Homo sapiens: one gene and its partner. The protein of the gene in region 1 purifies or fractionates together with the protein of each later gene. This does not show direct contact. Each region holds a gene or a part of one and is shown on either strand. Other genes may lie near its edges.

The links.
Region 2: the proteins of POLR3H (region 1) and POLR3B purify together in Homo sapiens (affinity purification with mass spectrometry; 8 studies listed by BioGRID and IntAct, with this or other methods). This does not show direct contact.

The regions. Positions count from the first base shown.
Region 1 is NC_000022.11:41,537,971-41,541,470, reverse strand, and holds part of POLR3H (DNA-directed RNA polymerase III subunit RPC8), read left to right. Parts: intron 1-675; coding exon 676-772; intron 773-3,500.
Region 2 is NC_000012.12:106,360,748-106,364,247, reverse strand, and holds part of POLR3B (DNA-directed RNA polymerase III subunit RPC2), read right to left. Parts: intron 379-3,500; coding exon 346-378; intron 1-345. UniProt on the Homo sapiens protein: Catalytic core component of RNA polymerase III (Pol III), a DNA-dependent RNA polymerase which synthesizes small non-coding RNAs using the four ribonucleoside triphosphates as substrates.

The sequences.
Region 1 (3,500 bases):
GACACTGAGTAGCCAGTCGTTTGAACCACAGTGGTGTGGGGTGAGGGCATGGGATTTCTGCACATTCTTGGGGCCTAGGTCTTGTGTCCCTCTGCCAGCTGCAGTCCCTGTGGCTGCGTCTGTGTGTCTGAGATGTTGTGAGCACAGTGGGGTTTAGCTGTGGCTGTGACGCTCACTAAACTGTGAGCTCTGGCATTGGCTTTGGGATGTCGGAGAGTGCACGTTTAGGCAGCATTCCTGTCACTGGTCCTCACTAGTAATAACAAAGATCCTTGATGATGATGGTTTCCAATACACGAGCCAGGTACAAGGCTAGGGGCTTCACATCTGTTATCTCTCTTTATTTTATAACTCTGCAGCCTGGTATTTCACATTTGCAGATGGGGAGACCGAGGCTCAGAGAGGTGAAGTGACCCTCTTGGCAGTCACACAGTGGGTGGTGGAGCTGGCCTTGGAACCTGGACCTGTTTTGTCACCCGAGGCCCTGCTCCTTCCAGAGCTCTGCATCCTTCTGAGGTTCCTTACCCTGGTCCCCTCCACAAACTCATTTTCACCTAAAAAAGGAGATAATCATGGCTTGCTTGTGGTTGTGAGGGGCTCAGATTGCCTGGGAGCTGGGCCTGTGGTCACTCTGTATCCATGTGTACTTGTGTGTCTGTGTTTGTATGCATGCAGGTCGTGTACAACGTGGGACTCTGCATTTGTCTGTTTGATATCACCAAACTGGAGGATGCCTATGTATTCCCTGGGGATGGCGCATCACACACCAAAGGTGGGTATCTTCTGTCCCTGGGGCATTGGGCTTCTTGGGGCTCAGTTTTCTGTAGCCAAAGGTCAAGCCAAATCCAGGTTCAGTGGTGCGTGCCTGTAAGGCTGAGGGCGGAAGGATCTCTTGAGCCACAGAGTTCAAGGCCAGCCTGGGCAACATAGCAAGACCCTGTCTTTAAATACATAAATAAAATATGAAAAAATTTTAAAAGGCTAAAGTCAAAGAGATGGCCAGAGGGTGGTGGGAGTCCTGGAGGCTGGGAGACGTGGGGCCTCATCCTGAATCGGCCAGGAATTGACCCGGTGACAGCGGCAGACTTCTCTTCTCTGGGCCTCTGTTCCCTCATCTGTGAGGCCTGGGATGTGGACTAGTTGGTTTTCAAGGCCTCTTCAGCTCTGACTTCATAGCTCTGTGTCTGTGCCCTTTTGGTCTCATTGCTACTGAGCCCTGCACCTTGTCCATTCCTCGGGCTTCCCGCTGCCTGTGGAGAGCAGACGGAAGGGGGATCAGCAGGCTGGCTGGGGGTGGGGGACTTGGATAGTAGGACACAGTAGGTAAGAGTGTGGCCTCAAGATTAAAAGCTGAGCTCTGCTTCTTACTAGCTGTGTGTCCTGGCTGAATATGTCATTGCTCTGTGCCTCTGCTTCCTTATCTGTCAGTTGCAGTTCAGGATGTCAACTGCAGTTTAGGATAGATTTTATATTCTAAGACCATTGTGAGGATTAAGGAGTTAATACATGAAAGCTCTTAGGACAGAGCCTTGGCACCTAACGAGCACTCAGTGACTTATCAGCGTGGATTGTTTCTCCCTATTCTGTCGGTCAGTTGGGTGGTTTTCCTCTCATCTGGCTGGCCTGGGGCTGGACAATCTAGGACGGTCTCACATTCTGAAGGTTGGCAGACTGGTTGGTTACTGGGGGCCTGGGCTGGGCTGGCCCATCTCTGCCCCACATGGTCTCATCTTTCAGTAGGCCAGGCTGGGCTTGGCGGTTTTAAGGTTCCAAAGTTCAGTGCGTAAGTACTTCTCAAGCCTCTGCTTCCATCCCGTTGGCTAGGGTGAGGGGATGGAGAAATAGACTTCACCTCTGGGTGGGAGAAACTGCAGTCACATTGCAAAAGGGTGTGCATCCAGGAATGGAAGGTGATCACCAGATCCTGGAAGGAGGGAGGAGTAGAGAGAGGACCACCCTGAGAGGAGCCAGGACCACCAGTCAAGGGAGGTGATGAGCCCCAGGAGAGGGGCATTCTTCATTCTCATGTCTGGACCAAACCAGTGTATAGGAGATGGTGAGAGGCCCATTGAGACGGTTCAGGCTCCCAGAGCGCAGGCGCCAAGCCTGCCATCCCTTGGGCACTCAGAGCGCAATTCTCAGCCTGCCCCAGGCCTCCCTCCGCCTGAGTCAGAATCTTGGGGGATGGGTCCAAATACTTTTTTTTTTTTTTAAGACAGAGTCTTGCTCTGTTGCCCAGGTTGGAGTGCAGAAGTGTGATCTTGGCTCACTGCAACCTCCACCTCCCAGCATCAAGCAATTCTCCTGCCTCAGCCTCCCGAGTAGCTGGGATTATAGGCACGTGCCACCACGCCTGGCTAATTTTTGTATTTTTAGTAGAGGGGGTTTCACCATGTTGGTCAGAATGGTCTCGAACGCCTGACCTCGTGATCCGCCCACCTCGGCCTCCCAAAGTGCTGGGATTACAGGCGTGAGCCACTGCCCCCAGCCCCAAAGACTGTTTTAACAAGGTACCAGGTGGTTGTCACACGAGCTCATGTTGGATAAGCCCTGCTGTAGTCCATACTGGTCAGCCTCTCAGCACAGAGATGCCAGAACATTCCAGAGTATGCTGTGAGACTGCCTAGTGTCTGTGTCCAGCCATTCAGGGAATTAATTAGTTCGCATGGATGTTACCATGGTACGCCGAGAGGCCGAAGAAACAGGCTGTCTTTGTACAGACTAGGAGCATTTTCATTAGCAGAGAAATAAGATTGCAGTGTGAAAACAACCACGAGGGCCTCTGTTTACAGAGAAGGATGCCGAGCTGAGCCCAGTCTCCGCATTTGGACAGGGGCCTTGGTTGTCCAGGAGACAAGTGGTAATAGGTACTAGAACTTCCAGAAAAACTTGGAGAAAAAAGTCAAGTTGCGGCCGGGTGTGGTGGCTCACGCTTGTAATCCCAGAACTTTGGGAGGTAAAGGCGGGTGCATCACCTGAGGTCAGGAGTTCTAGACCAGCCTGGCCAACATGGCAAAACCTCATCTCTACTAAAACTACAAAAAAAGCCAGGCACGATGGCTCACTTCTGTAATCCCAGCACTTTGGGAGGCCGAGGCGGGCAGATCATGAGGTCAGGAGATCTCCTGGCTAACACGGTGAAACCCTGTCTCTACTAAAAATACAAAACATTAGCCAGGTGTGGCGGCAGGCACCTGTAGTCCCAGCTACTCAGGAGGCTGAGGCAGGAGAATGGAGTGAACCCAGGAGGCGGAGCTTGCAGTGAACCGAGATCGCACCACTGCACTCCAGCCTGGGCAACAGAGTGAAACTCCGTCTCAAAAAAAAAAAAAAAAAAATTATTTGGGTGTGGTGGCACATGTCTGTAATCCCAGCTACTCCGGAGGCTGAGGCAGGAGAATCGCTTGAACCCAGGAGGCAGAGGTTGCAGTGAGCTGAGATTGTGCCACTGCACTCCACCCTAGGCGACAGGGTGAGACTGTATCTCAAAAAAAAAAAAA
Region 2 (3,500 bases), on another chromosome or scaffold:
CCCAGCTTTCAGGCTTAAACCTTCTTCTCTTAAGATGTGGTTTATGTCTCACTTCATTTGGGTGGCCCTCTCTGACCATTGCTCTTTTGCTGATAGCACTTTGGTTTTTAATCATGTGCCATGCTACTGTGCATGTACTACTACTTCTCTCTAAAATTAGACTACCACTCTCCAAACCAGCACCTTTCAGGCAGGGATTTTACCTTATAATTCCTTGTATTTCCAAACACAGCTATACAAAATCAAAAAATGTTGATGACAAAAATTTAATCTTTAAAAAATGGCTTATTTCTTGACTTTTTCATCTGAAAAATAACCAATTATTATTAAATGTGAAACAATTACCTTTAAAAATGCTGGAAGCAGCCTCCATTTTTCCTGTGAGCCAAAACAAGAAGAATATCAGAACTCTGTACCAGCAACAGTACTTTCATAAGTTATTTTAATGTTCCAAAATAAGCAAAGGAAAGTAAATCAAAACAAAAAGAATAATTTTTAAACATTTTTATGGAAATCACATGTGTGCATATGCATATAAATATGTATACACATACATACATACACTACAGGTTTCCTAAACAGAATATAACTTAATCTCTTCCTGATGACTCAAGATTTTAAGCACTTTTCAATCCTTTATTTTATTCTCATGACACTTCCTAAGTGAAGTTTGCCAGTTTGAGAAAAGGAAAATAAGGCTCAGAGAGTCTGGTGGGAGAGCTGGGTCTCAAGACCCAAAGGGAGTTCTTTCTCCCTCCCATTCTCTCTCAACTACTGTCTGGTCAGAGCTCATCTCAGGGCTACAGAAGGATGACACATATGGTGATTGCTTCCTACATTGCCTGAGCAACTAGAGGGATAGAGTTAAAATTGATGGAGGCGAGGAACATTGTAGGAATAGCAGGTTTAGGTGTGGAGGGGCTACTAGAAATTTGGTTTGGGTGTGTTAAGCTTGAGATCTCCATTAGACATTCAGGTGGAAATGTCAAGGAGGCAACAAATGAGTCTTGAATTCGGGAATGGAGTGGCCTGGAGATATAAACTAGGAAGAGATTAACAAGTGGATGGCAATTAAAGGCACGTGATGGATGAGATCACCTATGGAATGTAGATGGAGAAGAGTTCCACAAAGTGAGACCAACCAAGAATAATCCAACAATCAGAGAGGAGGAGCAGGAGGCAGCTCCAGCAAAGGAGACCGAGGAGTGGCCAGGGAAGGTGGCAGACCCCTGGGTATAGTCAAAAACAAGAGAGGCAGGCAAAGCTAATCTATGATGACGGAAATCAAAAGGTGCTTGGGGGGATAGACTGAAAAGGGTCATAAGGGAACTTTCTGGGGTGATGCAATGTCCACATAGAGCACATAACTATAAAACCAATGTAACTGAATATCTAGTATCCATACATTTTATTATATAAATTACACCTAAATTTAAAAATAGAAGAATGACAATGATATAGGTTGAATTGTGTCCCTCTCAAAATTCATATGCTAAAGTCCTAATCCCCAGTATCTCAGAATGTGACTGTTTTTGAAGATGGGGTCTTGACAAAGGTGATTAAGTAAAATGAGTCATTAAGGTGAGCCCTAATCCAATACAACTGGTGTCCTTATAAAAAAGGAGAAATTGGACATAGAGATGCACACAGGGACAATGCCATGTGAAGATGAAGGTAGAGGTCTCAGTGAAGCTTCTGCAAGCCAAGGGATGCCAAAGATTGCCAGCAAACACCTGTAGTAGGGGACGGCCCAGAGCAGATCCTCTCTCATAGCCCTCAGAAGGAGCCAGCTCTGTTGTCACCCTGATCTCAGACTTCTAACTTCCAGAACTATGAGAAAACAAATTTCTGTTGTTTAAGCCACCTAGTTTGTGGTTACTTTGTTACGGCAGCCCTATGAGCTAATACTCCCACATCTTCAAATTCCTCTCTCTACACCCCTTCTTATACTCGTTTCCTCCCACTTCAAAGGAAGGACCATCCATTCCTTGGTCTAAGGCTAACCCTTCCGCCACAGACACAATCCTGCCAACCTTCTCCTGAAGACTGGAAACCTTGCCCCAGTTCAGTCCTTGATATTCAACCTGTTCTATTTAAAACGAGTATTCAAATCCTCCCATTAAAAAAAAAATTTAAAACTTTCTTGACTCAGCAGCTCCTCTGACTACTTTCTTCCCTGCCCTTCAGCTTACGATCTCTCCCAAATTACTCCATATTTAGCTTCTCTGTTCCTCACTTCCCACTCCTTCATTCCGTTATAGTCAGGACTCTGACCTACCTGCCAGTGAAAGAGCTCGACAGAGGTCACCAAGGCTGCTACTTCAAAAGACCTCCCTTGATGCCCCCTCACATTCCCTTTCCACAGTATTTGGCCATGCCGATCACTGTCTTATAACACTCTGTGGTATCATTCTCTTATGTCTTTCCTTCCTCCGGCCGGGCCTTGTCACACCTCTTTTTCTCTGCCACCCTGCAAATTTTGGTGTTCTTCAAAGTTCTATCCCTGGCGATGTCTTTTCTCAAGTAGGGCTGGGAATGGAGGATTTCAAACAACACTGTTTGAAAGTGTTGTTTAGCTTCCCCCATCTCATCCCACAGCCCCCCAGTTCCAAATGTGGGCTCTTTCAAGGGCAGTGACCCTGTCTATCCTGTTACCACAGTGCCTGGCACATAAAAGACTCCAATAAATACTGAATAAATAAATGAGTGAGTGAATATCACTGTTGCAGTAAGCTACTGGGTATGGGCCTGTCCCCTCCAACTATTGACTGGGCAGTGATACCTTACAGCCTCAGAGGCTACTTAAGATCAGTATGTCCAAAATTAAATCTTCCCCCAGCTCCATTCTCAATCTCAATGAATATCACCATTTATCCCAGTCAATCCCAAATTAGATACCCGGGAGTCCTAACTTTCTGACTCTTCTTAATCAACAGGAAAACAAAAATTCTACTGAGTCGACCTCCTTTTAACCTTCCTCGCATTTATCCTCTGCTCCTGTGCCAGTTGAGGCCCTCATAATCTTTCAGCTGGTCTGCGGCAATACTTCCTTACTACTCTTCCTGCTCGTCCCTTTCAATGCTCAGCACTAAAGCCAGTGTACATGTCCTCATGTGCACAGCTGAGCACCTCATTCTCTACAACTCTTCAGTGCCTCCCCACCCTCTTCACCATGTCTTAACTCCACAGCGAGGCATACATCATATGCTGTGCTTGCAGCTGTACTTGTGCCTACGCCTCCTCCTTCTATCTGGAATGCTTCCGCACCACCACACTTCATCCACATCTGGCAAACTCAGTTCAGGCATCACATCCTAGCTACCATTTGTAATACCAAAATACCCCTCGCCTACTTGTATCACAGTACCTATTGCATGTTATTCCACTTGCTTACACGTCTCTCTCTATAAGCCTATAACACACTGGGAGGCAGAAAACACATTTTTTGAACTTGTATAAACCCTGTGAATAATACACCACCAGGTAAGTACTCAGTAACA